Homo sapiens: one gene and its partners. The protein of the gene in region 1 interacts with the protein of each later gene in a biochemical or structural test. Each region holds a gene or a part of one and is shown in the gene's direction. Other genes may lie near its edges. The genes, in order: SIPA1L2, FZD1, TRIM29, ABCA2, ARHGEF26, RSBN1 and LRP4.

The links.
Region 2: the proteins of SIPA1L2 (region 1) and FZD1 interact in a test that uses a peptide from one of them, tested with the Homo sapiens proteins (one large-scale study listed by IntAct).
Region 3: the proteins of SIPA1L2 (region 1) and TRIM29 interact in a test that uses a peptide from one of them, tested with the Homo sapiens proteins (one large-scale study listed by IntAct).
Region 4: the proteins of SIPA1L2 (region 1) and ABCA2 interact in a test that uses a peptide from one of them, tested with the Homo sapiens proteins (one large-scale study listed by IntAct).
Region 5: the proteins of SIPA1L2 (region 1) and ARHGEF26 interact in a test that uses a peptide from one of them, tested with the Homo sapiens proteins (one large-scale study listed by IntAct).
Region 6: the proteins of SIPA1L2 (region 1) and RSBN1 interact in a test that uses a peptide from one of them, tested with the Homo sapiens proteins (one large-scale study listed by IntAct).
Region 7: the proteins of SIPA1L2 (region 1) and LRP4 interact in a test that uses a peptide from one of them, tested with the Homo sapiens proteins (one large-scale study listed by IntAct).

What each region holds. Positions count from the first base shown.
Region 1 is NC_000001.11:232,400,300-232,403,133, reverse strand, and holds part of SIPA1L2 (signal-induced proliferation-associated 1-like protein 2), read left to right. Parts: intron 1-660; coding exon 661-742; intron 743-2,834.
Region 2 is NC_000007.14:91,263,248-91,267,232, forward strand, and holds the start of FZD1 (frizzled-1), read left to right. Parts: upstream 1-1,185; 5' UTR 1,186-1,633; coding exon 1,634-3,577; 3' UTR 3,578-3,985. UniProt on the Homo sapiens protein: Receptor for Wnt proteins. Activated by WNT3A, WNT3, WNT1 and to a lesser extent WNT2, but apparently not by WNT4, WNT5A, WNT5B, WNT6, WNT7A or WNT7B. Contradictory results showing activation by WNT7B have been described for mouse.
Region 3 is NC_000011.10:120,121,114-120,124,613, reverse strand, and holds part of TRIM29 (tripartite motif-containing protein 29), read left to right. Parts: intron 1-1,558; coding exon 1,559-1,660; intron 1,661-3,500.
Region 4 is NC_000009.12:137,014,738-137,018,237, reverse strand, and holds part of ABCA2 (ATP-binding cassette sub-family A member 2), read left to right. Parts: coding exon 1-60; intron 61-162; coding exon 163-265; intron 266-336; coding exon 337-451; intron 452-545; coding exon 546-736; intron 737-891; coding exon 892-1,042; intron 1,043-1,113; coding exon 1,114-1,318; intron 1,319-1,499; coding exon 1,500-1,664; intron 1,665-1,766; coding exon 1,767-1,947; intron 1,948-2,063; coding exon 2,064-2,276; intron 2,277-2,366; coding exon 2,367-2,563; intron 2,564-2,641; coding exon 2,642-2,824; intron 2,825-3,140; coding exon 3,141-3,325; intron 3,326-3,427; coding exon 3,428-3,500. UniProt on the Homo sapiens protein: Probable lipid transporter that modulates cholesterol sequestration in the late endosome/lysosome by regulating the intracellular sphingolipid metabolism, in turn participates in cholesterol homeostasis.
Region 5 is NC_000003.12:154,253,890-154,257,389, forward strand, and holds part of ARHGEF26 (rho guanine nucleotide exchange factor 26), read left to right. Parts: exon of another isoform or gene 1-84; intron 85-830; coding exon 831-935; intron 936-1,441; coding exon 1,442-1,584; 3' UTR 1,585-3,500. UniProt on the Homo sapiens protein: Activates RhoG GTPase by promoting the exchange of GDP by GTP. Required for the formation of membrane ruffles during macropinocytosis. Required for the formation of cup-like structures during trans-endothelial migration of leukocytes.
Region 6 is NC_000001.11:113,774,477-113,777,976, reverse strand, and holds part of RSBN1 (lysine-specific demethylase 9), read left to right. Parts: exon of another isoform or gene 1-157; intron 158-168; coding exon 169-306; intron 307-624; coding exon 625-767; intron 768-3,500. UniProt on the Homo sapiens protein: Histone demethylase that specifically demethylates dimethylated 'Lys-20' of histone H4 (H4K20me2), thereby modulating chromosome architecture.
Region 7 is NC_000011.10:46,908,551-46,912,050, reverse strand, and holds part of LRP4 (low-density lipoprotein receptor-related protein 4 precursor), read left to right. Parts: intron 1-3,500. UniProt on the Homo sapiens protein: Mediates SOST-dependent inhibition of bone formation. Functions as a specific facilitator of SOST-mediated inhibition of Wnt signaling.

The sequences.
Region 1 (2,834 bases):
TGAATTACTGCAACAGCACCATGCAGGGATAACTCGCCGATTGGCCTTCCACCTGCCAGGCTGCACATGCTCACCAGCCCAGGGCATGGCCCCTCCCAGAACCTGGTCCTTGATCCAGCCTCATGCCCTCCACTGAAATATGTTGGGAACACCCCACTCTTTCCCCTATATTCATGACATGTTCATTCCCCGTGAAATGTGTATTCTTTACCTCTGTCATCCATTCTTAATTCCAACTTCTATGTGAGCTGAATATAGAACTTGGAATTAACTTCATTAACTTGCATGTTCACATTGGTAACGAGCTTCATAATATTGTTATCATAGGGAAAGGCAAATTGGGGAAATTGACTGGTTCCCAGGACTTCATTTGGGTCTTCCTTGTCTCCATTGGATAAACCAACTTAAATAATATATCTTTTGTTTTCCTACCAACTCGTATATCTATAGAGTTTCTGCATCTCTTTTTAAATCAGTAAAGTCCCAGAATGGGCTTTCCACTAGATCAGCAATATGGACACTTTCCCATTCTGACATAATATAATATATCTGCTTGCTGGGCTCTAAGCACATGAAATAATTTTTTCGAGTGAAAACTTGACCAACAAAAATGCTCGATTGACTCTCTTGAATCTTTCTAATTCTATCCTTATTTGCTAGGGAGCGTTCTCCATCACCACTGACCGGGAAAGTCAATCAGCTGGAATTAATTCTTCGACAACTCCAGACCGACCTTCGGAAGGTAATCAATTGGAAGAGCATAATCAGAACTGTTTCTCTTATAAAATCAGCCCCTTATAACTACTACAGATAAATTGAAAAGACTCAGGAAAGAAAACTGCCTTACACAAAAACCAATGATAAATACCAACAGATGCTCCTGAGGTCTCACTCCATCTGCTGACCTGCAGCTGATGTATTTCATTTTGTGGGATGCAGGGATCTCAATGGATATGAGTAAATGAGGATGAGCCCTTGGTGTGGCAAATCTTCAGTGTGTAGTAGAAGCATGGTGGGCCAGCATTTTTTAGTTCAGTGAGTTATCAGTTGCGCCAACTCTGTATGAGATGACCTCAGAGGAGTCCATTGCTGCCAGAAAGCCTGGTCTCTATGAGTCCTGTCCTCTGTCTTGAATCAGCTTCACAGCCCTTAGAACTTCTGCTGTACACATCAACCTGCACATGGTCTGTCCTCAAAAGAAATTAAATTCTGTATCCCACAAATACTTGGCTGAGCTCTGTTCCATCAGCCCTGTGCTGGAGAGCCAGTTGGCTGTCCAGGGAAACGGAATGGGGTGCGGTAGCAAGCGGGAGGGCATCACAGGAAGGTTTTTGTTGTGATGGTTTGGTTTGGTTTGGCTTATGAAGAAGGGAGAAATTGTAGCTGGTGAGAATGCTGAGGAAAGGATTCAGTTGGGAGGGAAATTATGATGAGGGTGAAGAGCAAGTGGGTGGAGTTCTGATCTAGTCACAAGGAGGGAGCTGGCCTTGGATAGGAGTAGGGACAGCTCATACATAGTTACCAGAGTGGAGCAGAGTATGTGTGCACATGTGTGTGTTCATATATGCACATGTTCATTCACATACACAGGGTCCAGACAGAGATGTTGGCAAATTTCTCTGATTGTTTCTTTTCTTTCTAGTCATGAGCTAAGAGTGGTGGGAGTATAAGAGTTTTGTGGATAGCGGATATGGGTGCACCACAGCGTGTAAACCAACCGGGTTTAGGAGACTTGCCCAAAAAAAGCTAAAGCACGTTTGAATTTGGAGCATAAATTAAAGCGATACCTGTTTTCCTGGTCGTGTGTTTTTTCCCCAGCTTGGGTGACCAGCTGTCCCAGTTTGCCCGGGATGGAGAAGTTTTCTAGGATGTGGAAGTTTCCATATTAGAACCGGCAAAGTCCCATGCAAGCTGGGATGGCTGGTCACCCTATCTCCAGCTGCAAGTGTAGAACCGTTGGAGAGTTGAATTTAGCCAATATTAAAGTTTAGACGGGAAATCAAGACGAGAGAGAGAGAGAGAGACAAGGACCCTGGGGCGTGTACAGGGCATGAATAAACCAAAGAACCTGGAGTCCAGGCTGGTTGAAGAGAAATAATGTCACTGCTGGGGAATGGCTGGGTTGGAGGTGTTGGTGGACAGTGAAAATAAGAGTAAGATTGATAAGATTGATGGAGTCTATCATTACTGGAGGAGTGGATACTGGAGAAATTATTTTTAAAAGACTGGAGGTGGTGGTCAAGAAGTAGGAACTTGAAACTTTTAGGAAGAGGTGCAGTCATTGACAATAGCATGGTATAGGATGTGGTCATGGGAGTGGGGGTTGAGGAGGGTGGGGTTTGAAGATCACTGAGAGAAAGCGATGGAGAGGCTGAACGGCCAGAGTGTCAGATGGAATATCTCAGTGGATTCGAAATCATCAACACAGATGACAGGAGTGGGATGGGGAGAAAAGAGCAAACCAGGTTCTAGAATCTTCCCGTAATGATGGTTGGAACTGGGGATACAGTAGATAATTGCAGCCAGGAGGGGTAGCAGGTCTCATGACCTAATGGCACGTTTTTTAGAGGAGCTGGAATTGTAGGAAGTAGTGGAGATCTGGCCTGAACAATAGAGGATGCACTGTCTGCCTGCCCGACCCCCATAGTGAGCTGCTGGGGACGGTCTCCTCGGGAGGGAGCCAGGATTCACTTAGAGCACGAAGACGAAAGGAATTTCAGGAGAGACTGAGCGTGCACAAGGTCTTCTTGGCAGAATCCAAGTTCATGGATCACAATAAAAGGTTTGCAGGGATGTGGAGAGGTGGGCAGCCGAGTCGCAGCAGAGATGTGCTG
Region 2 (3,985 bases), on another chromosome or scaffold:
TGGAAGAATTAATAGTCCAATGGCACTTTTCTTATAAAACTGAATTACATAGTCAAACCATCATTTAAAATAATCTTACAAGGAAAACAACATTAATGTGCGTCTGTTGAGACGGATTATGCTGTTTTGGAATTAGGAAGAGAATGTGCAGTTCGCTGTTTGCTTTCAGACTGTTTGTTTGTTTTGTTTATTAAACTGGCGTCTCCAGCTCTGCAGCCCAGCCTGTGGAACCTAAATGGCCCAGGTCCCAGGAGTTCCCATCGGAGCCGTGGGCGTCCCCAGGGTTTAGAAAGGCTCCCCAGGGGCCCAAGCTGCCGGCGAGTGCAGCTCCCGCCGGCGCCACCTCTGCGGTCTGGAGCGGCGAGGACGATCCCAGAGAGGCGCCCCCACTGCCTCGGTCGTCGGGTTCTTAAGTTTTTCTCTCCAAAAATTTAATGGATAGTTTTCTTTTGCTTCTGTTTCTGACTTGATTAAAGAGGCGGAAAAAAAGGAGTTTGACTCCAAGAAGAATGATAGTAGCAGAAGGCGCATCTGGCTTTACTTTCCAAATTCCATCAAAGTTTGTGTTTTGTTTCATTTGACAGCGATCCCGTGAACGTCTCCTCTGGGGAAATGGCGCGACCAAAGCCCGCCAAGCCCAGCCTGCGAACTGGAGGATTTATTAATGTAATATGTTAAACAAAACCTCGACAGACACAAACTCAAAGGAAACCGTGCGCTCCTTAAGTCAAAGGCATCTGTTCTGGAAGCAGAACCCGGTTTGCTGTTGGTAACCAGCGTTAAGAGCAGGATTTTTAAACATGATAATGGATAAAATAAAAGAAAAGCGAAGTCCCGCGGTCCTCTGACTCCTATTCATTATCTCCAGCAGCATATGGGACCATTCTCCTACGTATCCTCGCCTTTTTCTTCTGAAAAAGCAAAAGCAACCAAGCCTGTCCCGCTTCAGAGCAATCCTACTCTTTGTGCCTGAGTAGTGCCACCACCACTACTTCCTCCTCCTCCCGCCTCCTCCTACCCCGCCCTCCTGCCGCTGGCTTTCGCTCTGGCGAGGAGGCGGCCGGCTCCCTTTGCGCCGGGAAGCCGGAGCCGCGATTGGGCGACGGTCCCTGAGCCTCCAGTTCTGCGTCGGTTTCAAGGCTCCTCCCTCCTGGTGAAAGACAGACTACGGGGCGCCTGGAAACCGGTCCGAGGGCGCGCGAGGCAGAGGAGAGGGAGCGAGTTGAGGGATTGACACAAATGGTCAGGCGGCGGCGGCGGAGAAGGAGGCGGAGGCGCAGGGGGGAGCCGAGCCCGCTGGGCTGCGGAGAGTTGCGCTCTCTACGGGGCCGCGGCCACTAGCGCGGCGCCGCCAGCCGGGAGCCAGCGAGCCGAGGGCCAGGAAGGCGGGACACGACCCCGGCGCGCCCTAGCCACCCGGGTTCTCCCCGCCGCCCGCGCTTCATGAATCGCAAGTTTCCGCGGCGGCGGCGGCTGCGGTACGCAGAACAGGAGCCGGGGGAGCGGGCCGAAAGCGGCTTGGGCTCGACGGAGGGCACCCGCGCAGAGGTCTCCCTGGCCGCAGGGGGAGCCGCCGCCGGCCGTGCCCCTGGCAGCCCCAGCGGAGCGGCGCCAAGAGAGGAGCCGAGAAAGTATGGCTGAGGAGGAGGCGCCTAAGAAGTCCCGGGCCGCCGGCGGTGGCGCGAGCTGGGAACTTTGTGCCGGGGCGCTCTCGGCCCGGCTGGCGGAGGAGGGCAGCGGGGACGCCGGTGGCCGCCGCCGCCCGCCAGTTGACCCCCGGCGATTGGCGCGCCAGCTGCTGCTGCTGCTTTGGCTGCTGGAGGCTCCGCTGCTGCTGGGGGTCCGGGCCCAGGCGGCGGGCCAGGGGCCAGGCCAGGGGCCCGGGCCGGGGCAGCAACCGCCGCCGCCGCCTCAGCAGCAACAGAGCGGGCAGCAGTACAACGGCGAGCGGGGCATCTCCGTCCCGGACCACGGCTATTGCCAGCCCATCTCCATCCCGCTGTGCACGGACATCGCGTACAACCAGACCATCATGCCCAACCTGCTGGGCCACACGAACCAGGAGGACGCGGGCCTGGAGGTGCACCAGTTCTACCCTCTAGTGAAAGTGCAGTGTTCCGCTGAGCTCAAGTTCTTCCTGTGCTCCATGTACGCGCCCGTGTGCACCGTGCTAGAGCAGGCGCTGCCGCCCTGCCGCTCCCTGTGCGAGCGCGCGCGCCAGGGCTGCGAGGCGCTCATGAACAAGTTCGGCTTCCAGTGGCCAGACACGCTCAAGTGTGAGAAGTTCCCGGTGCACGGCGCCGGCGAGCTGTGCGTGGGCCAGAACACGTCCGACAAGGGCACCCCGACGCCCTCGCTGCTTCCAGAGTTCTGGACCAGCAACCCTCAGCACGGCGGCGGAGGGCACCGTGGCGGCTTCCCGGGGGGCGCCGGCGCGTCGGAGCGAGGCAAGTTCTCCTGCCCGCGCGCCCTCAAGGTGCCCTCCTACCTCAACTACCACTTCCTGGGGGAGAAGGACTGCGGCGCACCTTGTGAGCCGACCAAGGTGTATGGGCTCATGTACTTCGGGCCCGAGGAGCTGCGCTTCTCGCGCACCTGGATTGGCATTTGGTCAGTGCTGTGCTGCGCCTCCACGCTCTTCACGGTGCTTACGTACCTGGTGGACATGCGGCGCTTCAGCTACCCGGAGCGGCCCATCATCTTCTTGTCCGGCTGTTACACGGCCGTGGCCGTGGCCTACATCGCCGGCTTCCTCCTGGAAGACCGAGTGGTGTGTAATGACAAGTTCGCCGAGGACGGGGCACGCACTGTGGCGCAGGGCACCAAGAAGGAGGGCTGCACCATCCTCTTCATGATGCTCTACTTCTTCAGCATGGCCAGCTCCATCTGGTGGGTGATCCTGTCGCTCACCTGGTTCCTGGCGGCTGGCATGAAGTGGGGCCACGAGGCCATCGAAGCCAACTCACAGTATTTTCACCTGGCCGCCTGGGCTGTGCCGGCCATCAAGACCATCACCATCCTGGCGCTGGGCCAGGTGGACGGCGATGTGCTGAGCGGAGTGTGCTTCGTGGGGCTTAACAACGTGGACGCGCTGCGTGGCTTCGTGCTGGCGCCCCTCTTCGTGTACCTGTTTATCGGCACGTCCTTTCTGCTGGCCGGCTTTGTGTCGCTCTTCCGCATCCGCACCATCATGAAGCACGATGGCACCAAGACCGAGAAGCTGGAGAAGCTCATGGTGCGCATTGGCGTCTTCAGCGTGCTGTACACTGTGCCAGCCACCATCGTCATCGCCTGCTACTTCTACGAGCAGGCCTTCCGGGACCAGTGGGAACGCAGCTGGGTGGCCCAGAGCTGCAAGAGCTACGCTATCCCCTGCCCTCACCTCCAGGCGGGCGGAGGCGCCCCGCCGCACCCGCCCATGAGCCCGGACTTCACGGTCTTCATGATTAAGTACCTTATGACGCTGATCGTGGGCATCACGTCGGGCTTCTGGATCTGGTCCGGCAAGACCCTCAACTCCTGGAGGAAGTTCTACACGAGGCTCACCAACAGCAAACAAGGGGAGACTACAGTCTGAGACCCGGGGCTCAGCCCATGCCCAGGCCTCGGCCGGGGCGCAGCGATCCCCCAAAGCCAGCGCCGTGGAGTTCGTGCCAATCCTGACATCTCGAGGTTTCCTCACTAGACAACTCTCTTTCGCAGGCTCCTTTGAACAACTCAGCTCCTGCAAAAGCTTCCGTCCCTGAGGCAAAAGGACACGAGGGCCCGACTGCCAGAGGGAGGATGGACAGACCTCTTGCCCTCACACTCTGGTACCAGGACTGTTCGCTTTTATGATTGTAAATAGCCTGTGTAAGATTTTTGTAAGTATATTTGTATTTAAATGACGACCGATCACGCGTTTTTCTTTTTCAAAAGTTTTTAATTATTTAGGGCGGTTTAACCATTTGAGGCTTTTCCTTCTTGCCCTTTTCGGAGTATTGCA
Region 3 (3,500 bases), on another chromosome or scaffold:
AATGATTGAGTGCTCGCTCGATGCCGGGCATTTCACTGAGCTTCTCACGCACATTACCTTATTTTCCCTGTGGGGTGTACTGCATTTTACAGGCGAGAAGGCTGAGGCTCAGAGAAGCATCCTTTCAAAGGGCGCACTGCTCGGTAGGGGGTACGGCGGGGTTGAACACTCTGCTGTTCAGTCTCCCATGCCCTCTCATCTGAGAAGCTGCGGCTGGCGGTGGCTGCAGAAGTGGGGTTGAGGAGTGTGATAATCATCGTCCCTGGGGTACAAACTCGGCAGGGCAGCCCCTCCGGTGAGGTCCGGCCAGGCCTGGGGGATGGCCTAGACTGGGGTGGGGTGAGCCTTGCAGAAACTGTTCAGGCTCCTGGCCGCTCACTGTCCCATTTCTAGGTCACAATGCTGGCCACGGCCTCTGTACAGGTGTGGCCCTGCGTCCTGTACGAGGTGTGTGGCGAGGTGGCAAGCAGGAGCAGGGATGGGCACTGCTGATTCAGTAGCCCACACCTGTGCCTGGGGCCGTGGGGGCGGCTCCTCTGCCTCTGTGTTGTTTTTTCGTGTGGCTGCTGGGAGTGTGTCTGCTCTAGGAGGTGGTGGCCGGTGAGTCAGACAGTGGAGTGACCATCCACTCCTCCCCGATGCTAGCCTGCCCACCAGACCAGGGACTCGTCCACACCCTCAAAGGCCCCTGCGCTAAGAGACACCAGGCCACTTCATCCTGGACTCTGTGGGGCACAGGGCTGGGCTAACACCTAGGAGGGCATTTGTTTATTCTTTGAGTATCTGCTGTGCACCAGGACACTGATAGGCGCAGGTGATGAAGATGAAGAATGAGGGTCTCAGGCACATTTCTCCTCTTGCTCAGGAGAGAGAGAGGGAAGGACAGGGAAAGTAGAAGACGGGGAAGTCGAAAGAGAAAGGAATGGGGTGGAGGTGGCTGAGGGAAGTCAAGTGTCGAGCAGCAGATCTGTTTGAGTTAGGGGGTCTGCAGTTGAGTGGCCCCTGCCATAGCAGCTCACTCCACTGCCTGGATCCCTGGGCCATGGAGGCCAACACTGGGACCTCATCCCCTCACCTTAGGCTGCCAGCAGTGGCTGGGACTGAACCCGGAAGTAGCGAGCCAGAGCTCAATCCCCAACTCTGCCCTTATCGGCATGTGACATTGGGCAAGCTGCTTCTCTTACTTCCTGAGTCTCAATTTCCTTATCTGTCTCAGGGGGATACAACCACAATTGATGTATGGATCAAATAAGAAATGGGCATTAATAGCACCTTGTAAAGGTGAAGTGCTAGGAAGTGTTGTGCACACAATCGTATTTACAAGGGCTTAGTTCAAGAGGGTGGATGGCTCTTTGCAGACACCTTCTCCACCAAGAGCTCAGGAACCGAGTGAATGCTGGGCAGGGCGTCATATTCTCTGAGAGGTTGGGGAAACTTGGATCTGCCTGGGAGATAGGGGAAGGGCTATGGGGTGACTCATCTGAGCCCCAAAAGTCCCCAGTGGCTGGCTCCTCCTTCCCACCTGGCTCCTCTGCTGACCCGACCCTCTGCTTCCTAGGTGGTGACCATCGCTATGTGAACAACTACACGAACAGCTTCGGGGGTGAGTGGAGTGCACCGGACACCATGAAGAGATACTCCATGTACCTGACACCCAAAGGTAAGAGGGAGCCCCTCACCCCAGACCTAGTGTCTCTCCTGCTGCCCAGGGGCCCCCAAAGTCCGTGCAGTGACTCTCAGCCAGGTTCCTTCTGAGTGGGGGTGATGGCATGTCCAGTTTGCCTGGGAAAGTCCTGGCATCTACGTGTTGTCCTGATGTGATGATGAACAGGTCTGTGTTAGCTCTCAGAAGTGTCCTGGTTCGAATGAGAAGTTACCTGGTGCCAGCTCCTCAGAGGCATTCCTCCCGGGCCACACAGGCAGCACCTCTTTGCCCTCCTTGCCTTCTCACTTCCAGCCCACACCTCTGCTTCTCTTTCCTTCCGGAGGTCTCCTGGGCTCCCTTCTGCCAGGCCGGTGCTGTGTTTTGCTTTGGCTCAGGTTTTGTAGGGGCTGAGCCCTGTGAGATGGCTGCCGACCCCAGGACCATTCTGCTCCCCTAGGCAGGGAGAGTGGTCCCTCCTCTTCTGAGTTTCCTGGCTCTGCACCCTGGCCCCCTTGGCCCTCCCTCTCAGGCCCTGGACAGTCCCAGCCTGCAAGGTGCCGGCCTAGCACAGACCAGTGCCTGCCTGTCCTTGCCCTGTGGTGGCCTCTCACATTCTTGGGCGCCAGCAACAAACCACAGCAATACCCGTTACATAAGGGTGGGTGTGCCAGCCCTCGGACCATGAGGGTGTGTGCCTGTGCATGTGGGAGAGGGAGGCTGGGGGAGGAGGGAGGCCTGGGTAAGGCACAGGGGCTGGGGAGGGGGAAGCCTCCGGGAGCTAATCAGTAATTCACACACGTCTTTCACACACACACACACACACACACACACACACACTCACACACACAATGGGAGAGGCTTGGGGGATTTGGAGAGATGAGCTCAACAGAAAAGCACCTGTGCCGCCCCACCCAGTTTGAAAACAACCCCTGGGCTTCTTGGTTGTTGGGCTTTCCCTCCTCTGACATTCCTGGTGTGGGCCAGGCCCCAGCCGGCCAGCCTGCCTCCTCCCTGCCTGGGGTGCTGTGCCTTTGGGCAAGTTCTGGGAGTGCCGGCCCCAGCACCCCTCTCCTCAGAACCCCTACCTGGCCTCGCCCTGGCCCTGTCCCTCCTGTCTCTCCCTTCCATCCATGGACCAGGCCCTGGGGTGCCATCGAGTGCCCTGACAGGCTCCTGCGGGTCTCTCCTGCTCTGTAGGAGACTGAGGGCCCAGTGTGAGCCTCCTGCAGGTTGTGGGAGGGGGTGGAGGGAACAGCAGCACCCACTATGATGCCACCCCGAGGGCCTAGGGCCTGGGGCATCTTGGGCAGGCCTCAGTACCTGTATCTGAAGAGAGGGGAGGTTGTGCTCACATGCTGGGAGACTTCCCAGCTCTGCACTGTGAGTCAGTCTATGATGTCTGTGATGGAAGAAACAGGTTCCCCCGGCATCCCTGCCCAAGCACTGTGGGTAGCCTGTGCCGAGGACAGGAGGGACAGGAAATCTGCCCTCTGGGAGCTCCCAGGCTCAGGGTGGAGTTGGGGGGAGAACAGGAAGCAATCACCAAGGAGATGAAAGAAACAAGGCCCCTAAAGGGACTGGGTCCTGAGTCTGGGAGCTTTGAGGTCAGTGGGATTGACAGTGGCTGTGACTCCTTCCCTGGAGGGGTGAATTTCCAGGAACCTGTGCTCAGTAGAGGGAGCATGACTGCGAAGGGCAGAGGGCATCAGGGAACACAGGCACAAAGGCTTACAGGAAGGACTGGCAGGGCCGGAAATGGGGGTGTGGTGTCATCTGAGGGTCAGGTGGGGAAGGACAGAGGTAACAGAGGGCTAGAATACACATGGGGAGCTCATTGTTTTCAGCTGGGTATCGG
Region 4 (3,500 bases), on another chromosome or scaffold:
GGCCTGGGCCCAATACTGGCGGCCGCTTCTACTTCCTCTACGGCTTCGTCTGGATCCAGGGTGAGGAGCAGGCCCGGAAGACCGGCTGGAGGATTCATGGGGGAGGACAGGTGTGAGGACGAGAGGGCCTGCCCGGCACCTGATGGCTGCCCCCACCCACAGACATGATGGAGCGCGCCATCATCGACACTTTTGTGGGGCACGATGTGGTGGAGCCAGGCAGCTACGTGCAGATGTTCCCCTACCCCTGCTACACACGCGATGAGTGAGTGCTGGGCGCCCGGGGCTGGGGCTGGGGCTGGGGCTGAGTGGCGCCTGAGCGCGGCCTCCCCGCAGCTTCCTGTTTGTCATTGAGCACATGATGCCGCTGTGCATGGTGATCTCCTGGGTCTACTCCGTGGCCATGACCATCCAGCACATCGTGGCGGAGAAGGAGCACCGGCTCAAGGAGGTGCGCGGGCCGGGACTCTCCCTGGAGGCGCGGGCTGGCAGGGAGGGGCGGCGTCCTCCCCGGGGCCTGCCCCAAGCCCCTGGCCCACCCGCAGGTGATGAAGACCATGGGCCTGAACAACGCGGTGCACTGGGTGGCCTGGTTCATCACCGGCTTTGTGCAGCTGTCCATCTCCGTGACAGCACTCACCGCCATCCTGAAGTACGGCCAGGTGCTTATGCACAGCCACGTGGTCATCATCTGGCTCTTCCTGGCAGTCTACGCGGTGGCCACCATCATGTTCTGGTGAGCGCGGGCCATGGTAGGAGGGACCTGGGGCAGGCACTTGCCCAGCAAGCTCACCCCACATCCTCTCAGAGCCCCCTGGACCCTGGCACGGGCCTGCCCAGGAGGCCGGGCGTGCGGGTGGATGACGGTGCGCGTGGCCCCTGCCCACCCAGCTTCCTGGTGTCTGTGCTGTACTCCAAGGCCAAGCTGGCCTCGGCCTGCGGTGGCATCATCTACTTCCTGAGCTACGTGCCCTACATGTACGTGGCGATCCGAGAGGAGGTGGCGCATGATAAGATCACGGCCTTCGAGAAGTGCATCGCGGTGAGGGTCGCGGGCAGGCGGGCGGCTGGGGTGCCGGGCCACCCCACGTGCTGACACCACTGCCTTCTCAGTCCCTCATGTCCACGACGGCCTTTGGTCTGGGCTCTAAGTACTTCGCGCTGTATGAGGTGGCCGGCGTGGGCATCCAGTGGCACACCTTCAGCCAGTCCCCGGTGGAGGGGGACGACTTCAACTTGCTCCTGGCTGTCACCATGCTGATGGTGGACGCCGTGGTCTATGGCATCCTCACGTGGTACATTGAGGCTGTGCACCCAGGTACTGGCCAGCCCTTGGAGGGCAGGGGAGAGGCAGGGGTCCCCAGCCAGGGTTGGGGACCAGCAGTCTGTGTCCACTCCTGGATGCAGCACGGGTGGCTCCCTGGGTGGGCACGTGGCCCACGTGGTGGATGGTCACCCCAGGCCCTAGGTCAGCCTCCCCTCCCCTCCCCGACCCCCAGGCATGTACGGGCTGCCCCGGCCCTGGTACTTCCCACTGCAGAAGTCCTACTGGCTGGGCAGTGGGCGGACAGAAGCCTGGGAGTGGAGCTGGCCGTGGGCACGCACCCCCCGCCTCAGTGTCATGGAGGAGGACCAGGCCTGTGCCATGGAGAGCCGGCGCTTTGGTGAGGCTGGCATCAGAATGGTGGCTGGGGTGGGCGCTGGGTTCAGAGTCCTGGGTGGCCTTGGCGCCGCCCCCACCCTGCTGATCCACAGCCCTGGTGCAGAGGAGACCCGTGGCATGGAGGAGGAGCCCACCCACCTGCCTCTGGTTGTCTGCGTGGACAAACTCACCAAGGTCTACAAGGACGACAAGAAGCTGGCCCTGAACAAGCTGAGCCTGAACCTCTACGAGAACCAGGTGGTCTCCTTCTTGGGCCACAACGGGGCGGGCAAGACCACCACCATGTGAGTGTCGGAGGGGCAGGGCGGTGGGCATCTGCTGACCAGAGCAGGAGTCCTAGTCAGGGCAGGGTGGGGCCCCTGCAGAGGGCGTGGGGTCATGACCCCGCCCACCTACCCAGGTCCATCCTGACCGGCCTGTTCCCTCCAACGTCGGGTTCCGCCACCATCTACGGGCACGACATCCGCACGGAGATGGATGAGATCCGCAAGAACCTGGGCATGTGCCCGCAGCACAATGTGCTCTTTGACCGGCTCACGGTGGAGGAACACCTCTGGTTCTACTCACGGCTCAAGAGCATGGCTCAGGAGGAGATCCGCAGAGAGATGGACAAGTGGGTGGGCTGGGCGGGGGGCGGGGCAGGTGGGCGGAGGCCCTGGGGCTCTGCATAGCAGCAGCCCCATGCCCCACCTCCCTGTCCCAGGATGATCGAGGACCTGGAGCTCTCCAACAAACGGCACTCACTGGTGCAGACATTGTCGGGTGGCATGAAGCGCAAGCTGTCCGTGGCCATCGCCTTCGTGGGCGGCTCTCGCGCCATCATCCTGGACGAGCCCACGGCGGGCGTGGACCCCTACGCGCGCCGCGCCATCTGGGACCTCATCCTGAAGTACAAGCCAGGTGAGTGGGGTGCCGTGTGGGCAGGGGTGCGGGCGGCGCCTCCCCTGCCCCCTGACCCTGGGTCTGGCCTTGTCCTAGGCCGCACCATCCTTCTGTCCACCCACCACATGGATGAGGCTGACCTGCTTGGGGACCGCATTGCCATCATCTCCCATGGGAAGCTCAAGTGCTGCGGCTCCCCGCTCTTCCTCAAGGGCACCTATGGCGACGGGTACCGCCTCACGCTGGTCAAGCGGCCCGCCGAGCCGGGGGGCCCCCAAGGTCTGTGTTGAAGCTGCCTGAGCTGGCTTCGGGCCACCTTCTCCCCGGGACCCCCACCTGAGAATCCACAATGGAGAGGCTGGGCCCTCACCGTCACCCGCTGGGCCCAGGATGCCTGCTGGGGCCTGGCCCGCCCTCTGCAACGCCCGTATCTTGGAGAGGCTGGGTCCTCAGCGTCACCCCCTGGGCCCAGGATACCTGCTGGGGCCTGGTTCTTCCTCTCCAATGCCCATATCTTGACCCAGTTGGGTTCCCATTGGGGGTCCCTCCTCCCAGCCCCTGAGTGAATTCCTTCCTGCTCCCACGTCCCCCACAGAGCCAGGGCTGGCATCCAGCCCCCCAGGTCGGGCCCCGCTGAGCAGCTGCTCCGAGCTCCAGGTGTCCCAGTTCATCCGCAAGCATGTGGCCTCCTGCCTGCTGGTCTCAGACACAAGCACGGAGCTCTCCTACATCCTGCCCAGCGAGGCCGCCAAGAAGGGGGCTTTCGAGCGCCTCTTCCAGGTGTGAGGGCGCACGGGTCGGGGGGCAGTTGCAGGTGGTGGAGGTGGGCGCACTCCTGCCTGGGCGTCCCTGCCGCAGCCTCCCCCTCCACCGCCCCTGCAGCACCTGGAGCGCAGCCTGGATGCACTGCACCTCAGCAGCTTCGGGCTGATGGACACGACCCTGGAGGAAGTGT
Region 5 (3,500 bases), on another chromosome or scaffold:
GAAATCAAGCTTTGTATTAAAAAGCAAATTAAGAAGTCACATGTCAGCATTTTGTTTGTTTGTTTTGAGATGGAGTCTCGCTCTGGTGCTATCTCAGCTCACTGCAAGCTCCGTCTCCTGGGTTCATACCATTCTCCTGCCTCAGCCTCCCAAGTAGCTGAGACTACAGGCGCCCGCCACCATGCCCAGCTAATTTTTTGTATTTTTAGTAGAGACGGGGTTTCACCGTGTTAGCCAGGATGGTCCCAATCTCCTGACCTCGTGATCCGCCTGCCTCGGCCTCCCAAAGTGCTGGGATTACAGGCGTGAGCCACCGTGCCCGGCCACATGTCAGCATTTCTGAGGAGGTCTAACATGACTTCTCAGCTTTTGGTTGGAGCTCATTTTATTTCTAAACTTTTTTTTGGAAACTTTCATGTGCTGCTGTTGGGATGGGGAGACACTCTGATGAGAGCCAGGAGAACTGTGTCTGTTGCAGATTTTGCATGGCCTTGGCACATCAGCAACTCTTTCATGTCTCAGTTTCCCTAATGCAGAGTGGCTGTTTTCTGTTCCATTGTGTGACATGACTAATGACTCCTGATCAACCTGTTATTGAGGGGAATCATGCATCATAAAAGGCCTCTCAAATCTGAGCTTCTAAAATTCTAAAGCTTATAGCCAAGCAAGGGAGTTGCTAGAAAAGATGTTCTGCTTTTTATTAGAAGCCCAACTTGTTTCTCTCAATGCTGGCCCTGAATTGCAGAGAAAAATAAGTAAGTGTACATTATTGGATTGCACATGTTTTTTCTCTGCTACTGGAAACTTAGTATGTCCTCTTTTGGCCTCAGCACTGACCCAGGTGGAAATCGTTAGGTCATTTACTGCTAAGCAGCCAGATGAACTCTCCCTGCAGGTGGCTGACGTCGTCCTCATCTATCAACGTGTCAGCGATGGTGAGTGGGAGCGTTCTTATGGGACACTCGTGGTCCAGGATGCAGAGTGCTATAGACCCGAGGAGTGTCATTTTGTCATCATTGCCCATATTCCAAATCTTGACATGTTAATGTTTGAGATCACATATATGTACTGTCTTCTCATCTCTAAGGCTAAACCATGACGTTTTCTTTTTTCCCCAGTCCCTCAGTGACCCAGTTCTTATCTCTAAATATTCGTCCTTTCAAAAATAGCATTCTTCCTGCTATCCTTTACCCAAAGCATCTCCTTTCCCAGCTCAGCCCAGGTTCAAATACTCTCAGCCTTCTCACTTCAGGGCCTCTGCTCACGTTCTTTCCCTGCCATGTCATTCATTCCCCCTCGAAAGCTTTCCCTGTCCCACTTTCTCTTCTCACCGTAGCACTTAGCCTGGGGAGGGATGCTGCCTCTCAGCTTTTTCATATCCTTGGAGCCTGGCACACTCCAAATACTTGTTGTTTGGTGTGGACTCTGTTCTTTTTCACAGGCTGGTATGAGGGGGAACGACTACGAGATGGAGAAAGAGGCTGGTTTCCTATGGAATGTGCCAAGGAGATAACATGTCAAGCTACAATTGATAAGAATGTGGAGAGAATGGGACGCTTGCTAGGACTGGAGACCAACGTGTAGTCTCTCAGATGGTCTTTTGTTACTGCAAGATTTGCACGACACTTACCGGGCTGGTTGGTTCTGGGCTAGTTTTATTGTTAATTTTGTCACAGCCTATTTAATTAAAAGAACGAAAACACTTGCCTTTAAGCTTGCCAGGTTGTTCTGCTCTCTCATGAGAAGAGCTTGGATACAGTGAGTTTGCACAGCTCAGTTTTTACCTAACCACACACTTGCAGACCTCCTGAGGTACACAGAATAGCTGAGCAGTTCACTTCAGGGATCAGGTCATCTCTGCTCCTCCTAGTTTCACCATGTTCTGGCAATAAAAAACACATATTATATCCTGGTTTTCTCTATCCTTGCATTACTAAGGTGACTGTCTCTCTTTATACATCCTTGTATGGTTCTCCCAGTATTAGCAAGATTGTATATCTGTAAAGAATGTCCAGTTTTGTAAATATTTCCCTGCCTTTTTTTTTCTTTTTTTACATCTGATTTTAATGCTTCGTTAACTTCAAAAGGAACTGGTAGAGTTCAGAAGGTGAGCTGTTGTTTTTCTAAACCTCTTCCCAGGAAGGGGACATTGACACTTGAATTTTTGTCACCTTTTTCCTCATTAGAAGGAAAGTAGAAAGCCTTACTTTAGGATTTTTAAAAAAAAATCCATCTCACCCCATATTGTTCTTAAATAAGTATAGACTAATTAACCTAAGCTACCTTTAACAACGTAGAATTTAGATGGGTTCATATATGTGAGAAAAACCTGAATATAGGACAGGGGTCCTACTTTTTTCCCCACCTCTGTCGCCCAGGCTAGAGTATAGTGGTGTGATCTTGGCCCACTGCAACCTCTGCTTCCTAGGTTCAAGTGATTCTCCTGCCTCAGCCTCCCAAGTAGCTGGGATTGTAAGAGTATGCCACCACGCCCAGCTACTTTTTGTATTTTTAGTAGAGACAGGGTTTCATCATGTTGGCCAGGATGGTCTCTTAACTCCTGCCCTCAAGTGATCCACCAGAGAGGAGATCCTCGGCCTCCCCAAGTGCTGGGATTATAGGCATGAGCCACCGTGCCCAGCCTACTTTCTAATTAATTAAAAAAAAAAAAAAAAAAAAAAAAAAACCTTCCCAAATGAGCTGATAAAAAACTGACGTGAGGCTGCTTTGCCTTCAATAATACCTAGTTTTCAGCTGTTCCAACTCGTTTCCAAATAGAAATTAGCTGGAACACACTACAGTAATCTCAAGGAAGGGAAAATTAGGCCTTAAAAGATACCAAGAAGTCAGCATGGTACCCAATTGAAACCTTTTGACCTTAGTGGGAATTCATTCTATTTGCACTAAAAGCCTTAACTTGCTGTATTCAGAGTCCCTCTTAACTGTGAGTTTCTATAGAACTTTACTTTTTCCACTAGTGCACAGAGAGAGAAAGGTTATCTTAATAGTCGGTTTCATGGAGATGAAGGATGGGAGATTAAGAGGGGGGAAATGATTTTTACTGGCAGCTATATTCCCTCTCTGTTCTATTTGCTTTAACAAAGGGATAAAACCTGGCAAAGTGTACATTATTGGAGGACTCAAATCTGTATGTGACATGTCCCAACTACTGTCCGCTAACTAGTTATCCAAATTGTAAAGCTACAGAAGCCCAGTTGAGGGGTAAGTGTGCCTGGCTCACACAGCCTGCACCCTGTCACCTCGGCAATGAGCCAGTGTGGGGCACTGGGGACTTCTAACCCTTGGATTGCTCTTTTTGACCTGTGCATACCTTCTAATTGTAAAATATATTTCAGACCGTGAGTACCTTGAGATCTGAGCAACTGTGTTAATGAAGTAATAGCAATGGTCCACAGTGAAAGATGTGTTGGGGTTTGCAAAACAAGCATTCCGTCACCTCTTTAATAATGTCACAGACTTTTTAAAAGAGAGGCTATCAA
Region 6 (3,500 bases), about 120 Mb from region 1:
TATTTGTCAGTGTGCTTGGGTGCCTCTCTGACTTTATTCAAGGTATTGACCATTCAGTTCTTAGTTTGTAGAAGAAATGGCAACGTTGGAAACAATAACCTATTTTAATTCTTTAATTATATTATAGTTGTACCTCAGTCCATTTTTCCCTCTTTTGTTTTATCTTAGGTCAACAGGACATACTGCTGTGGCACCTACCGAGCAGGTCCTATGCGGCAGATAAGTCTCGTTGGAGCAGTAGATGAAGAAGTTGGTGATTATTTCCCAGAGTTCCTTGATATGTTAGAAGAATCACCATTTCTGAAAGTGAGTGTTAATTAAGATTATTAAAGTTTTGATCTTTACTTAAGTGGGCACTTTATATGTTGAAGAGTATTTAGCTAATATTGCCTATTGAAATTAAATTTATCCAGTGTTTTGCACAGAAATGTTTAGATAGAATAATATTAGTACAAAGTACTTAAATTCAATTATTCTTTTTAATATAAATTACTATGTAAATAGCATTTATTTCTTTATATACAGTTGTAAAAAAGCCTTCTTAGAACTTTTATTTGGGTGGGAGGATTAACTTATAAATCATTGAAACAATTTTTTAATGTGACTAATCCGTCTGATTTCTAGATGACTTTGCCCTGGGGTACACTTTCTAGCCTCCGACTCCAGTGTAGGTCCCAGAGTGATGATGGGCCTATAATGTGGGTAAGGCCAGGAGAACAGATGATCCCTACAGCAGATATGCCAAAGTCACCCTTCAAAAGACGACGGTAAATATTTCTTTTTCTCAAATAAGCAAAACTACTTTTTTTTAGTTGGTTGCTTATAAAAATGAGCACAGTTTGAAAACCATTTGTCTTGGGCTCCCTTAAGTAAATGTTTTAGTTGTCGGTTCCTCTTTTCAGTCCAATCATCACAGTTATCACAGTGAGGCATTTTTCTAAAACACAAATTTAATTTTTACTTATTTTTTAAAAACCTGTGCCCTAACTGCCTGCAGGATAAAAGATCAAACCCCTTAGTGTGGTTTACATTAATAATCAGGTCAACTGTACCTCTTCTAGATGTATCTGTGTTTAGTCTTCTCCGGCCATACCGAATTCACTTTCCAAACCATAGTCTATCATAACTCTTTGCTTTTGCACTATTTTTTTTTTTTTTTTTTTTTTGAGATAGGGTCTCACTCTGTTGCCCAGAGCTAGAGTGCAGTGGTACAATCATAGCTCACTGTATTCTTGAACTTCTGGTCTCAGGAGAGCCTCCCAAGTAACTGTGGCTATAGGTGTGTACCACCATGCCCATCTGATTAAAAAAATTGTTTTGTGTATTTTATTTTTGTAGAGATGGGGTCTCACCATATTGCCCAGGTTGGCTTTGAACTCCTGGCCTCAAATGATCCTCCTGCCTCAGCCTCCCAAAGTGCTGGGGTTACCGTCCCACAGCAAACTTAATACATTTTCAAAACTTAGCTTGAGCTGGGCACAGTGGCATATGCCTTTAGTCCTAGCTACCTGGTAGGCTGAAGTAGGAGGATCAGTTGAGCCCAGGACTCCACGACAAGATCCTGACTCAAACCCAAACCAAAACCAAACAAAACTTAACTTGGACGTCACCTCCTTTGTGAAGTTTTTCTTTCCTTCCTTAGGTAATTAATTGTTCCCTACAATGTTCTGTTCATTAAAGTTTTGTTTACATGTTTTTATTTTCTACTAACATTTGAGGTGTGCTTTGGGAAGACAGGGACTATTTTATTCATCTTTGTCCTCATGACATATACTAGGTAACCAGTATTTGCTACATGAAACCAATAATGTTCTATAGGACCGAGCCTCAGTAATTCATATTGTGCTAACATGTTTTGTGTTTCAGACTTTGAAGACAAATGTAGATTAACTCACTCTCTAGTACTTTGAAAAATCTAATTTAATGAGACTGAAAATGATCTATACCTGCTTAGACTACGAAAATAGCAATTCAAAATAAGTGCCCAGAAGTGAGTTTTAATGGACTAATCTAAACCTTAACTTAAGGCTCATAGGAGAATGATACTTGAGCTAAGTATGGAATAATCTTAGGTACTTGAAATGTATGAAAATACTTTGAAAACATTATGTACGATGCAGGGTGGTGGCATGGTAAAAACCCAGGAGTCATTTGAAAGTTCTGCACATTGCTAGATTATAGCAGTTTTTGTTGCAGGATGATGACGAATCTTGAAATCTTATTAAATTGTTAAATACTATATACATTTTTTGTTCTGTAATCTTTCCTCAAAAAATGACCATCATTTGTTTCCTGATTTTTATAAACTTAAGAAAAAAGTAATAGGAAAGAGTAAAAAGAGGGCAGGTGCAGTGGCTCACACCTGTAATCCCAGAACTTTGGGAGGCTGAGGCAGGCAGATTGCTTGAGTCCAGGAGTTCAAGACCAGCCTGGGCAACATGACAAAACCCTGTCTCTAGTAAAAATACAAAAATTAGTGTGGTGGCACGCTCCTGTAATCCTAGTTACTGAGGTGGTTGAGGCATGAGAATCGCTTGAACTCAGGAGGCCGAGGTCGCAGTGAGCTGAGATGGTGCTTCTGCACTCCAGCCTGGACGACAGAGTAAGACTCATCTCAAAAAGAAAAAAAAAAAGAAGAGTAGAAAGAAGGCAGGCTGGGCATGGTGGCTCACACCTGTAATCCCAGCACTTTGGGAGGCCAAGGCAGGCGGATCACCTGAGGTCAGGAGTTCGAGACCATCCTGGTCAACATGGTGAAACCCCATCTCTACTAAAAATACAAAAATTAGCTGGGCATGGTGGCAGCCGCCTGTTATCCCAGCTACTCGGGAGGCTGAGGCAGGAGAATTGCTTGAACCTGGGAGGCGAAGGTTGCAGTGAGCCGAGATTGTGCCACTCCACTCAAGCCTGGGGGACAAGAGCAAGACTTCATCTCCAAAAAAAAAAAAAAGGTAGCCACCATTTAGGCATATTAACCTTTCAAATTATATATAGCCATAAATAATCTTTTTACAAAATCCATTCTTTGTGTGATGTTTACTTTAAAACTTGGGAATTTTTACTGTATGGTTGTATCAAGATTTATTTAACCAATTCTTGGTTTTTGTTTTTGTTTTTTCTTTGAGACAGGGTCTTACTCTGTCACCTAGGCTGGAGTGCAGTGGCATGATCAGGGCTCACTGTAGCCCATCTCCCAGGCTCAAGTGATCCTCCCACCTCAGCCCCACCAAGTATCTGGGACTACAGGTGCCTGCCACCATGCCTGGCTAGTTGTTTTTTGTTGTTGTTGTTGTTGTTTTTGAGACAGAGTCTTGCTCTGTCACCCAGGCTGGAGTGCGGTGGTGCGATCTCGGCTCACTGCAAGCCCCTCCTCCCGGGTTCACACCATTCTCCTGCTTCAGCCTCCCAAGTAGCTGGGACTACAGCCTCCCGCTATGATGCCCGGCTAATTTTTTTTTTTATTTTTAGTAGAGATGGGGTTTCAACGTGTTAGCCAGGAT
Region 7 (3,500 bases), on another chromosome or scaffold:
GAAACCCCATGTCTACTAAAAATACAAAAATTAGCTGACGTGGTGGCACATGCCTATAGTCTCAGCTACTCAGGAGGCTGAGGCTGAGGCTGAGGTGGGAGAATCGCTTGAACCTGGGAGGCAGAGGTTGCAGCGAGCCAAGACTGTGCCACTGCACTCCAGGCTGAGCGACAGAGCGAGACTCCGTCTCAAAAAAAAAAAAAAAAAAAGAAGATTCCCATCTTACAGATGGGAAACAGGCTCAGAGCAGTTTCCTGTCATACAAATAGTGAGTAACTGAGCCAGGATTCCAGGCTATCCCAGAAGATCTAGGTTGGGAAGGTCTATATTTCATCTTGGATTGACCTCTCCTCTGTTTTCAGACATCTTCTCAGGGAGTCTGAATGCATAAGGAATTACTTCTCAGGTGCTTCTTGAGGGAGAGAGACTTTATTTTTATTTATTTATTTATTTTTTTTTTTTGAGACAGGTTCTCACTCTATTGCCAAGGCTGGAGTGCAGTGGCATGATCATAGCTCACTGTAGCCTCGAACTCATGGGCTCAGGAGAAGAGAGAGACTTTAAAAGGTTTCCAGAAAAATGTGGTTTGTTGCTCCCTGAACAGCCATAAACAAATGTGGTTTGTTACTGTGTGGACCTTCTGATTTGAGATGTAGGGGGAAGGGAAAGCAATATTTTGAGCAGCCCTTCACAGAGCACAGCCATGTTTGAGCCCTGTTGGATTTGTGAAATCTGTTGACAGCTTCCAGGTAGGGCAGGTAGAATTTTGAGGATCTATACAAAGATAGCCTGGCATTGGCTACATTACTAGGTTGAGAGAGAGGACATATCCAGATGAAGATAATGGGATTAGTACAAATAACAAGAAAAACAATAACAGCTGTCTAGTATGAACCTCATACGTATTATTTCATTTAGACCTCCCAGCAACCCTATGAAATAGATACTGTTATTACTCCTGATTTACAAAAGTGGAAGCTAATCCATTTCTTAATTGCTCTGTACTTTAGTTTCTGGATTCTCTCTCCTGTCCTTGGCTCCTCAGAATTAGTTGGTGATAAATTAGGCAAAGATTTGCTGGGTGTGGTGGCTCGTGCCTGTAATCCCAGTGCTTTGGGAGGCCGAGACAGGTGGATCACTTGAGGCCAGGAGTTTGAGACCAGCCTGGTCAATGTGGAGAAACCCTGTCTCTACTCTAAAAATACAAAAATTAGCCGGGTGTGGCGGTACACACCTGTAGTCTCAGCTACCTGGGAGGCTGAGGCAGGAGAATCGCTTGAACCCGGGAGATGGAAGTTGCAGTAAGCTGAGATTGTGCCAGTGCACTGCAGTGTGGGTGACAGAACAAGACTCCACCTCAAAAAAAAAAAGGGGGCAAGGATAAAGGATACCATGTGCCTCAAGCTCTTTCAGAGAAAGGCAATAAAGCAAGACTCTGCAGTTATTCATGCCACCAACTTAACCCATGGTGGTGGTACTGCTGCCTGGTACACAGTAGGGTTTTCAAACATCTCAAGTCCTAAAATAGCAGGTCTTAATCATGGAGTGGTTGGATGTGACAGTTCTGGGGTAAGCCAAATCTTTAATAGTAATAACAAGAGCTATTATTTATTGAGCACTTAGTATGTGCCAGGCAGTAATGCTAAGTCCTTCTTATGAATTAACTAATTTATTTCTCATAACATTCCTGTAAGTTAGGGGATTTTATTATCCCAATTTTCCTGATGAGAAAATTATATATAAAGAGGTTAAATAGCTGCCCAGGGTCAGACAGCTAGGAACTTAGCAGAGTCAGGATTTTTATCCTGGGGAGTTTTGTTCCTCCGTGCTTAACATTATGTTCTTCTGCCTCATAACTTTGGAGGCTAACCATTAAGGACTTCTTTTCTGTATGTAACAGTAGCAAGAGAGGGCTGAACTTGCTTGGACCCGCAATCATGTGCCCGACATGTCCCTTTCGAAACGGGCCACTGAGGAGAAGACTTCACCTGGTAGATTTTCCAAACCAACCAAGTTAAGCTGGCCTCTAGGAATCGGGAATAAAAGGGACCATGGGACAGAAATAAGTAGAAACATGGCGTGTCAGTTTCACAGCCGGATAATACAGCTGGTGAAAGGAACTCTTGTAGGAGAAAGGAGTAAACAAAACCTGGGTAGGACAAAGAGGCTGCCTTGCAAACGAGAAGATTCCTGTTCTCTCCAGCACTGGTTAGGTAGGAAATAACTACTTTTATTTATGATATTCTGAGTCTCTTTTCCTTTGACTCCAGCTTTCACAAGATTCTAGAGGAGTGTTTCATTCATTCATTCATTCATTCAACGAACTTGTATTTATTGCTGCCAGTGGATAAAAGGAGAGAGGCATATGCTAATATGCTTTAGCATATTATAAACGAATGGTGATTCCTCCTTTTTTTTTTTTTTTTTTTTTTTTTTTTTGAGACGGAGTCTCGCTCTGTCGCCCAGGCCGGACTGCGGACTGCAGTGGCGCAATCTCGGCTCACTGCAAGCTCCGCTTCCCGGGTTCACGCCATTCTCCTGCCTCAGCCTCCCGAGTAGCTGGGACTACAGGCGCCCGCTACCGCGCCCGGCTACTTTTTGTATTTTTAGTAGAGACGGGGTTTCACCTTGTTAGCCAGGATGGTCTCGATCTCCTGACCTCATGATCCACCCGCCTCGGCCTCCCAAAGTGCTGGGATTACAGGCGTGAGCCACCGCGCCCGGCCGATTCCTCCTTTTCTCATTGTAATCCTAATAGCTTCCACACTGGGGTAGCCACCAGACTCCAGAACACTCACAGGGTACTCCTTAAGCCTTCTCATCTCTGGTTCAGCTTGAAAAAGCTGGTCTGTAGCTGTGAGTAGTCACGGTCTACCCATGTGCCTCCATGTGACAGATGTGGTCCACCTTCAGCTGTGCATTCTATGGAATGGTGGAGAGCAGTGCCGCTAGACACTTGAGTGTGCATCGGTGTCACCCGGAAAGCTTACTGAAAGTCCAGACTCTGAGATCACACTAAGAGAAGAATACTAGTTTAAGTGTCAGAATGGGGCTGCCATCCTGGCTCTCCTACTTACCTTGTGACCTTGGCCAAAGCGGGTGCCCTTACCTGTTGGATGGGCCCTGCAGTCATTGCTCAGGATTATTGTAATGATTCAATGAGAATGCAAGTGCATATGCAAAAGTAGCTCACAAACTAAAGAGAAATTGCAAAGTATAATTATTTGTTATGGGAAGCCCTGTTCCCTGGACCAACAACACTCGAGTGCTGATTCAAAAGTGCTGGGACGCCAGACTTTCCCCACTTCATTACTTTACCTTCCGGCGAGGGAAATGAATCTTTCTTTACCTTAGCAGTAACCAGAAAGAGGTCACTGTTTGAGACCCATAAACTCACTGCATATTTGCTATTGGAGAACACATAAAAGAGAGGGACCCAGAAGTTGTAAATTCCCCCTTTTGACCTTGGGGTTTTGGAGATTCTCACAACAGTAATACCA